Regions from separate parts of the Homo sapiens genome. Here region 2 is linked to region 1. Evidence: fine-mapped expression QTL. A gene starts in region 1. The other region holds a variant in brackets. All regions are shown on one strand. Distances are from middle to middle.

Region 1 (5,379 bases):
CAAGTGAACAAAGGTCTCTGGCTTTCCTAGGCAGAGGACCCTGCGGCCTTCCGCAGTGTTTGTGTCCCTGGGTACTTGAGATTAGGGAGTGGTGGTGACTCTTAACGAGCATGCTGCCTTCAAGCATCTGTTTAACAAAGCACATCTTGCACCGCCCTTAATCCATTTAACCCTGAGTGGACACAGCACATGTTTCAGAGAGCACAGGTTTGGGGGTAAGGTCACAGTTCAACAGGATCCCAAGGCAGAAGAATTTTTCTTAGTACAGAACAAAATGAAAAGTCTCCCATGTCTACTTCTTTCCACACAGACACGGCAACCATCCGATTTCTCAATCTTTTCCCCACCTTTCCCCCCTTTCTATTCCACAAAACCACCATTGTCATCATGGCCCGTTCTCAATGAGCTGTTGGGTACACCTCCCAGACGGGGTGGTGGCCAGGCAGAGGGGCTCCTCACTTCCCAGTAGGGGCGGCCGGGCAGAGGCGCCCCTCACCTCCCGGATGGGGTGGCTGGCCGGGCGGGGGGCTGACCCCCCCACCTCCCTCCCGGATGGGGCGGCTGGCCGGGCAGAGGGGCTGACCCCCACCTCCCTCCCGGACGGGGTGGCTGCCGGGCGGAGACGCTCCTCACTTCCCAGACGGGGTGGCTGCCGGGCGGAGGGGCTCCTCACTTCTCAGATGGGGCGGCTGCCAGGCGGAGGGGCTCCTCACTTCTCAGACGGGACAGTTGCCAGGCAGAGGGTCTCCTCACTTCTCAGACGGGGCAGCTGGGCAGAGATGCTCCTCACCTCCCAGACGGGGTCGCGGCCGGGCAGAGGCGCTCCTCACACCGCAGACGGGGCGGCGGGGCAAAGGCGCTCCCCACATCTCAGACGATGAGCGGCCGGGCAGAGACGCTCCTCGCTTCCTAGATGGGATGGCGGCCGGGAAGAGGCACTCCTCACTTTCCAGACTGGGCAGCCAGGCAGAGGGGCTCCTCACATCCCAGAAGATAGGCGGCCAGGCAGAGACGCTCCTCACTTCCCAGACGGGGTGGCGGCCGGGCAGAGGCAGCACTCTCCGCACTTTGGGAGGCCAAGGCAGGCGGCTGGGAGGTGGAGGTTGTAGCGAGCCGAGATCACGCCACTGCACTCCAGCCTGGGCACCATTGAGCACTGAGTGAACCAGACACCGTCTGCAATCCCGGCACCTCCGGAGGCCGAGGCTGGCGGATCACTCGCGGTTAGGAGCTGGAGACCAGCCCGGCCAGCACAGCGAAACCCCGTCTCCACCAGAAAAATACGAAAACCAGTCAGGCGTGGCGGCGCGCGCCTGCAATGGCAGGCACTCCGCAGGCTGAGGCAGGAGAATCAGGCAGGGAGGTTGCAGAGAGCCGACATGGCAGCAGTACAGTCCAGCTTCGGCTGGGCATCAGAGGGAGACCGTGGAAAGAGAGGGAGAGGGAGACCTTGGAGAGGGAAAAGGAGGGGGAGGGGGAGGGGGAGAGGGAGAGGGAGAGGGCCCCAGCTTTATTGTCACAACCTACACATAGCATGTTGTAGGTGCCCTATAAATATGGATGGAATGAATGAATGAATGGAAAAGGACTTTGGATCCCTTTCTTGATCTTTTAATTCTTTATTTAAAAAGCTAAGAAGCTGTTTTTAATACAATATTTAAAAAATGTTGTAAAACCGCAGGACACTTCAAAATGTGATGAATTTTATAGTAAAATCAGGGGCACATAACTTTTCGTACATATATGTGGGTGTAGATAATTTCATGCTACACTAATTAACACACCTTTTAATTAAAGACGTTGAAAAGAAAAAAACCTTTTTGTGTGTGTCCAGGGTACAAGCACAAAATGAGACACCAATGGAAACCATGTATTAGGTATGGAAAATTTTTATGTCATTGAACACTCATGTTTTGATAGAAAAAAGAAAAAATTAGAAATTGCTTTTTGTCCAACCACAAGACCTAAATTATTTACCTTTCTATGTAATACTTATGGTTTCACTTCCTGTTAAAAATGCTCGATTCTATAGCTAATCCTAGATCTCTATAAGCCAATAAATGGATTAACTACAAAGATATGATAAACAATCTTTAATGGCATTTAATCTATTTTTATTAAAATTTGTAGCTACATTATTTAATGTAAGACTTACTAATATTTCTAATCAACTTATACATAAAAAGTTATTTGCTGTAGGTGTCTGCACAATGTGATTGCTAGCAGAATTAAATGCCTCAGGCTGCATCTATCAGACACTGGCCTTTCTGGATGCGTTCCATTTGATCGATAATTTGGGCAGCAAAATCTGATAAATTCTATATTAGAGATAATGACAGAGGGTAACTGTAGCACAGCGGAGGGAACAAGTCTCCAGAGGCAGAAGGGTCAGCTATGCCGAGAACACGTTTGAACTTGAACATTCGGGGACAGAGAAAACAGAGCTGCAAAATGTGAATTCTGTTAACTTGAAATGGTCAAATGGGAATGCCAGGAGTGGGAATGGGAGGGGGGGGTGAGGTGGGGCCGGGTGGGGGTGTCAGAGTAGGAGGCCCGGCGGGCAACTCCAGATTGGGCTTGACTCTTTGGCAGGTAAGAGCTCAGACTGGTGCGGGTCAGTGAGTTATCTGGGAAGACCACGGTGGGGACAGCTACGAGAGTGGCCCGAGGCGCTCGGGTGGGGGCAAGAGTAGGGCCGGAGACCAGTTAGGAGGCTGTGGGAGAAGCGGCAGAGGGCGCCGGGTGCAGGTCCGAACCCAGGGTAGTTTCTGGGGCAGGGCTCCAGGATTTGACTCCGGGCTGGGTACACCCCCACTCCTTAGGGCGCCCGGGCGGTGGTGGGGACTTCGACGCTCGGATGCCCCAGCGACGGCGTCCGGCGGGCGGAGTCGCAGGCGCGGGAGGGGTCCCCGCCGGGCAGCTGCCGAGCACCCCCCTCCTCCCCTCCCCCAACTACGAAGCCTCGCAGAGCGTCCTAACCGTCACCCACGCGGCTCGCGCGGACTGGGCAGCGCCCCGAGCGCCACAGCCGCGAGGAGTGACGGGCGCGGGCAGCTTCCGGCGCCGCAGCCGAGGAGGAGGAGCCGCCCCGCAGCCTCCGCGGGGCCTAGGGGCGAAGAGTGGGGAGCCGCCCCGTCCCAGCCGCCAGGTCGACGTAGGTGGGGCCGCTGCGCCCGCCGGCGCCCCGCGGAGATGTGGCCGGTGTCTTAGGATTAGGTGTTGGTTGCAGGTACAAGCGGGGCGCGGCCCGGGAGACGAGGATGGTGGGGTGGGAGTGGGGTTCTTCTGAGGACCCGGAGCGACTCGTGTTCATTTCTGGAATCTTCCGGTGCCTCGTGTTTGTTCTGCACATGGAAGATGCCCAATAAATTGTTTCTTTACTGGAATGAGCTGCTGTTGTTTTAGGGGATTGCAAGACCCCTGGGGACGGTGGCGCTGAAACCTGGACCTTGAAGAACACAGGGGCCTGCGCAAACTGATTTGATTTGTGGGGAAGAGAATCACCGAGTAACCTGCCCCAACGTGACTGCTGACTCTGTGTCTACCGCGCTGCCGCGAACAGGGGGAGGAGATGGGGAAGACTTGGTGGTAGAGAGGACAGCCTCGCATCCAAGACGGAATGGTGTTAAATGCCGGCGCAAGGGCCCTTTCAGCTTGAGCCCTGTCTTTAAACCACATGTGGGGGTCAGAGCTTTCCCTCATTATCAGCATCAATCAGCAACACAATGAGTTCTGGAAAGTCTCCATCCTTTTCCACAGCACTCTGCTCCAGGCCCCACTCAGGCTGCTCCAGGTTTTGTTTGTGCCTCATGCTGAACTCCAACGTCAGGGGAAAGTAGAAGTGAGGTCGGCTGTTGCCCAGGTTTTTTGACTGGCAACCAGTTCTTGCTGCTTCTCTCAGCAGGAGATTAAGGCGTTGTGGCCGGGTATGGCGGGGGCGTGTGGGGAAAGGACCAGGGCTTCCACATATCCCAGAGACATGCTAGGTAGGACTGTTTCTCTGTGCGGAAGCTCATCAGGTAAGGGTGCAGGAGTGCTGAGAGAGATGTGGTCCTCCTATCTCTGTACTGCGCTCATTGCTTTTAATCTTAGTGCGGTTATCTTACTTGTGTTGTGGGTGAAATGGTTTCCATGCCATAGAGTTAATATTATACTCCCAAAACAAATTGAGGACAGCAATTTATTTGTATGTATGCAAAGCCCTTACTGTTGTTGTGCATTTACAATGAGGACTTAGTTTTATCTAGTATGTTATGAGTGAGCCACTTTAGACCTCCACCATTTATTAAACAGGGCCTCTTGTGATCCACCCGTCCCCCAGCTAGATGGCCCCAAATTATATGGTAGGCTGAGCAGTGGCCACTCAAATATGTCAGGTCCTAATCCCTGAAACCTGTAAATGTTACCTTATAAGGGAAAAGTGCCTTTGCATACGTGATTAAGTAGCTTGAAATGGAGAGATTATCGTGAATTATCTAGGTGGGTCCTAAATGCAAACGCAAAGGTCCTAAGAGAGAGAGAGAAGCAGATTTGATATAGGCCGAAGAGAAGGCAATGTGACCACAGAGGCAGATATTGGAGTGATGTGGCCACAAGTCACCAAATGCCTGGCAACCAGCAGAGCTAGAAGAGGCAAGGAACTGATTCTCTTGCAGAGCCTCCAGAGGGAGGGAGGGAGCCCTGCCAACACCATGCTTTCTTCCCCATGAGACTGATTTTGGATTCCTGGCCTCCAGAATTATGAAAGAATAAGTTGCTATTGTTTTAAGCTACCGAGTTTTGATAATTTGTTATGGAAACTGTAGGGAACTAATACATATGAGCGTGCTCATAAATCACATACATGCTGTACTGATGAATAGTTTACAGGTCTTCAGCTGGGGCAATAGTGGGGTACAGTAGTGGAGATCACTGTATATTTATCTGAATCCTGTAAATCCTAAAGAAAGGATTTGAATAGGGAATTTGGTAAGAAAAGAAATTTAAGTGGTGCATATGAAGGAGGTAGTCTGGCATTTAAAGCAATTTTTTAAGAGTATTCCTATTAATATATCACTATTTGCTCTGGCTAAAAAGAATAAAGGTAAAAAGTGGCAAAGGCTTTGTCCTTACCTTAGCTGAATCATTATTGATTATCCATTGTGTGTATATCAAGTAAGAGTTGCAGACACCTGGGGATTGAGGTCCAGGCCTGGGGAAAAGAGGGAATGCAGAAGTGCTTCCATGTATTAAAATATGGCTAAAAGCAACCGCTAGTCATCTGGAATTAAGATACTTTGGAGTTTTCAGGATACAGGAAAATTCAGTGTTCAAGTTTAATGATTCACTTCTGGGACCCAGGCAGCTAATTTACACTTCCCACTTTCCTTGATATGGTTT
Region 2 (5,379 bases), 41 kb after region 1:
TACTTCTGCAACAACACCAAGATAGGTAGGTTTCTGACTGAGGTATGGAAAAGCCTAGCGAAACTAAACCACAGTTTTACAGTGTTTCGGCCACAATTCCAAAATCTAAACAGCTCTGAAACACATAAGTTTTTTTATAGGTTTATAGGAAACTCATGTTAACATTTTGTTTTCCTGACCCTGGTTATAAAATCGTAAGGAAGATGTCATTTGAGATGATTACAATAGGAGTATTGCTGTAGGAGAGAGAGAGAGAGAGATTAAGCTCAGCTCCCAATACAAGGCCAAATGGGGATTTATAGCCAGGGGGCATGGTGAGGGGGTCTGTGGATGGAAAATTACTGAGAAAAGGCATCAAGAGTAGGGGGATTCTTGCTAAATGCAGGCCAAGGGCTTAGATATCAAAGGCAGGGGATGAAGAACTTGATCAGATATCGAGGGTGGGAGGACTAAACTGACTTGGCAAGATTCTTGCTAGGTCTGGGCTAGGCAGGCCAAAGGTTGAGGCATAGTTGAAAAGAGGCCTCAGAAGAGTCTGACTAAAGTTTGGTGAAGGAGAGAGTTTTTGTCACTCATTTGTTGGAAAAACCTGACCAGAGCTAATGTAAACCTTTCCATAGTCTACAATTTAGTGTGAATACTTATAAATTATTGCATTCATGATATGTTTCGTTAATGGGACACTTCCCTAGATCTCATTGGGGGTGTCATATAATATTTACTACTTGCAATTTATTACCATTGTAAAATAAAAAAAAATTCTGAATTCCAAAACTATCTGACTCCCAAAAGATTTGGATAAAGGGTTTTGGACTTGTTGTAGACACTTGTTATTAAAAGAGTAGCATATACAAAAGCAAAGCAAAATACTAAATTTGAGAGTATTGAAAATCATTAATTTTTAAAATAATTCATAGTCAGGAAAATCTTCTGTATCAAATGACAATCACCACATTCTTTTTATAGGATTGAGCAGTTAATAAGTGAACATGAAGTTGAAATAACAGGACTTACTGAGAAAGCTAGCAGTGCTCGAAGCCAAGCCAATAGTATCCAGAGTCAAATGGAAATCATTCAGTATGTGGTTTGAAACTGTTAGTCATTCATCTTCATTTTAAAGATATTATTCTCATTAACTTTCTGTTCTATAATCTTTTAGAACTTGCTTAGTAAGATTTCATAAGAAAGTGAAACATTTTTCTAACATTTAAATGAACAGGAAGTATTATGTAACATAGGTACTGTTATCTGACCATATAAGAAGTATTTTTGCAAGTATTTGGGGCTCCTGGGATTGGCTGTTTTAAGTATTCATATTTGTCCATTCTTACACTGCTATAAAGAACTAACCAAGACTGGGTAATTTATGAAGAAAAGAGATTTAATTGACTCCTAGTTCCACAGGCTTAACAGGAGTCGTGAGTGGGAGGCCTCAGGAAACTTACAATTATGACAGAAAACAAAGGGGAAGCAAGCACATCATACCATGGCAAAGCAAGAGAGAGAGAGAATGGGGATGTGCCACACTTTTAAATCATCAGATCTCATGAGAACTCACTCGCTATCACGGGAAAAGCATGGGGGAAATCTGTCCCCATGATCCAGTTACCTCCCACAAGGCCCCTCCCCTGACACATGGTGATTACAATTCAGATTTGTAATATCCCAAATATCATGTCTTTCTCACATTTTAAAATACAATTATTGGCTGGGCATGGTGGCTTACGCCTATATTCCCAGCACTTTGGGAGGCTGAGGCGGGCAGATCACGAGGTCAGGAGATCGAGAGCATCCTGGCTAACACGGTGAAACCCTGTCTCCACTAAAAATACAAAAAATTAGCTGGGCATGGTGGTGGGCACCTGTAGTCCCAGCTACTCAGGAGGCTGAGGCAGGAGAATGGCATGAACCCGGGAGGCAGAGCTTGCAGTGAGCCAAGATCACGCCACTGCACTCCAACCTGGGCGACAGAGCAAGACTCCATCTCAAAAATAAAAAAAATATAATTATCCCTTCTCAACAGTCCCCTAGTCTTAACTCATTTAAGCATTAACTCAGAAATTCAGTCCAAAGTCTCATCTGAGACAAAATAAGTCCGTTCCACCTATAAGCCTGTAAAATAAAAAACAAGTTTGTTATTTCCAAGATACAACTGGGTTACAGGCATTGGGTAAATGCTCCTATTCCAAATGGGAAAAATAGGCCAAAACAAAGGGGCTGCAGGCCCCATGCAAGTCCAAAATCCAGCTGTGCAGTCATTAAATCTTAAAGCTCTGAAATAATCTCCTTTGACTCCATGTCTCACTTCCAGGGCACACTGATGCAAGGCAGGGCTCCCAAGGCGTTGGGCAGCTCTGCCCTTGTTGCTCTGCATTGTACAGCCTCCGCAGCTGCTTTCACAGGCTACACTGAGTGCCTGTAGTTTTTCCACGTGCACAGTGCAAGCTGCCTGTAGATCTACCATTCTGGGGTCTGGAGGGTAGTGGCCCTCTTCTCACAGCTCCACTAAGCAGTGCCCCAGTGGGGACTCTGTGTGGGGGTTCCAACCCCACATTTCCCCTCCACATTACCCTAGTAGAGGTTCCCCATGAGGGCTCTACTCCTACAGCAGATGTCTGCCTGGACATCCAGGCATTTCCATACATGCTATGAAATCTAGGCAGAGGTTTCCAAACCTCAACTCTTGCTTTCTGTACACCTCCAGGCTCAACACCACATGGAAGCTGCCTAGTCTTGGGGCTTGCACCCTTTGAAGCAACAGCCCGAGCTGTACCTTGGCCCATTTTAGCCATGGCTGGAGCTGGAGCAGCTGGGACACAGGGTGCCATGTACCGAGGACGCACAGAGCGATAGAGAGGGCCCTGGCTTACAAAACCATTTCTTCCTCCTAAGTCACAAGGCCTGTGTTGGAAGGGGCTGCCTAAAGATCTCTGACATGCCCCGGAGACATTTTCCCCATTGTCTTGCACCTCTTCTTATGCAAATTTCTGCAGCCGGCAGCTTGAATTTCTCCCCAGGAAATGGGTTTTTCTTTTCTACCACATGGTCAGGCTGCAAATTTTCCAAACTTTTACACTGTGCTTCCCTTTTAAATAGAAGTTGCAATTTCACACCATCTCTTTGTAAATATATATGACTGTATGCTTTCAGAAACAGTCAGGTGACATCTTGAATGCTTTGCTGCTTAGAAATTTCTTCTGCC[C/A]GACACCCTGAATCATCTCTGTCTAGATCAAAGTTCCACAGATCTTTAGGGCAGGGGCAAAATGCTACCAGTCTCTTTGCTAAAGCATAGTGAGAGTGATCTTTACTCCAGTTCCCAAGAAGTTCCTCATCTCCATCTGAGACCACCTCAGCCTGGACTCTTTGTCCATATCACTATCAGCATTTTGGTCACAACCATTCAACAAGTCTCTAGGAAGTTCCAGACTTTCCCTCGTCTTTCTGTCTTCTGATCCCTCCAAACTGTTCCAACCTCTGCCTGTTACCTAGTTCCAAATTCACTTTCACATTTTCAGATATCTTTATAGCAGTGCCCCACTCTCCTGGTACCAGTTTTCTGTATTAATCCATTCTTACACTACTATAAAGAACTATCCAAGACTGGGTAATTTATAAAGAAAAGAAGTTTAGTTGACTCACAGTTCCACAGGCTTAACAAATCATGACTAGGAGGCCTCAGGAAACTTACAATCATGGGGAAAGCAAACACATCTTACCATGGCGGAGCAGGAAAGGGGGGAAGTGCCATACTTTTAAACCATCAGATGTTGTGAGAACTCACTATCATGAGAACAGTATGGGGGAAATCTGCCCCCACAGTCCAATCACCTCCCACCAGGTCCCTCCCCTGACATGTGGGGATTACAATTTGACATGAGATTTGGGTGGGGACACAGAGCCAAACCGTGTGTGTGTGTGTGTGTGTGTGTGTGTGTGTGTGTGTAATATATATGAATATATATAAGTAAAATGTATGCATATGTGTAGAAATAATTTTATTTGAGTTGTATGTTAAAACTTTTTATATGGACATTTTCTATCATATACAAAAGTAGAGAGAAAATAGTGTAATGCACTCCCATACAGCTGTCACCCAGCTTCAGCAGTTTACAATATATTTGAGGTGAAACTTTTGAGAGTCAGTTTTGGAAAATAAAAGACTATTGGCTTAATAATGCCATATAAAATAACTAGTGGTAGTGTCAAAAAGCTAGAATACTCAGGTGTTACTCTTATTCTTAGTTTGCTATTTGCACTTATTCCCCTTCTAAACTCTTCTTAGAGAGCAAGCAAGAAACCAAAACTCTATGTATATGCGTCAGCTCAGCGATCTGGAATCTACTGTTTCTCAGCTACGTTCTGAATTAAGGGAAGCCAAAAGGATGTATGAAGACAAGGTGAGTTTAGGTTTTGCTGGTCTGTTTCTAGAGACTTTAATATCCAGAATCAATATTATATTAGTAATAGTTTATTTGAAAATAAGGAATCAAAGTAATTTCAAATTAAAAGCAGTTTATAAGCTGGAGTAAGAGCATGCTAAATTATATTTTAAACTATTTATAAACTATTTTTATTTAAATTGTGTACTCTGATTCATTCTTAGCAAAATTTTTTGCATAGTTCAAGTGAGTTTCTAAAAAATGCATTAAAAATGAGACCATCTTAATTATTTTTACTTAGCTAAACTTTAGCAAATACTTCCATACCAGCCAGATCCCCCTGCTACTCAATATTTTTGGGGCCTACCTCCTCTCTTACTTCAACTCCTAACTCCTAATCATTGTGAAGCTACCAAACTGAATTAATGTTAAGATTAATTAAATGAATTAATTACATAAAAATTAATTAGGAGGATAAGTCATCTCTCATCATCATGTAATTCCTTTTAAAACCACATTAATATTTGATATTCTGTTTTTTTCTTTCACTTTCCATAGCTAAAGAGAAGCTATTCAGTATCATTGTCATCTGTTTATCCAGAGTTTAGACTTTTGTTCATTTCAACCATTTGTAAAACAGTAAGACCCTAAAAAACAAACAAGGAGCTGCCATTAAGAGGAGTGGTGGTCTTCATTCCCTGTGAGAAGGGTGATCACCCAAGGCGGCTTGCCTGGGACAGTCTCGGTTTACACCCGCTAGCCCAGTGTCCTGTTTTATGAATGCTACCTCTCATCTCCATAGTGTCCCCATTTGGAAGATAAAGTCTATATTTAGTCATCCTACCTATAAGAGACCCTTAGACAGCCAAGCAGAAACAATTTACATACAGTTCTGTCACTTGTAGTCAGTTTCTCACACCTTAGCTATTTGGAGCAGTAGGTTAGAAGAAATAGAGTATAAGGAAGCTGCCATACTCCCTTTATAAAATGAAACCAATTC

Which allele goes with the higher level. Alleles are on the strand shown, and positions count from the first base shown. SD is a standard deviation of normalised expression in the study named.
With allele C in place of A in region 2, the expression in atrial appendage of the gene that starts at base 3,053 in region 1 is lower (small effect, 0.34 SD a copy in GTEx).

Evidence for each region. PIP is the estimated chance that this variant, and not a neighbour inherited with it, causes the effect.
Region 2: its variant is fine-mapped to the expression of CCDC158 in atrial appendage (GTEx, PIP above 0.99). The same link has a PIP of 0.9 or more in prefrontal cortex.

The regions. Positions count from the first base shown.
Region 1 is chr4:76,418,815-76,424,193 of GRCh38, reverse strand. CCDC158 (coiled-coil domain containing 158) reads left to right here and starts at 3,053. Exons shown (of 25, transcript NM_001394954.1): 1 at 3,053-3,229.
Region 2 is chr4:76,378,308-76,383,686 of GRCh38, reverse strand. It overlaps CCDC158 (coiled-coil domain containing 158), which reads left to right. Exons shown (of 25, transcript NM_001394954.1): 7 at 1-25; 8 at 967-1,077; 9 at 4,283-4,397. Among named protein-coding and RNA genes, the nearest start is that of CCDC158, 40 kb to the left of the region's middle. RefSeq lists an enhancer at 2,609-3,113. The variant C/A (reference allele first, on the strand shown) is at 3,203.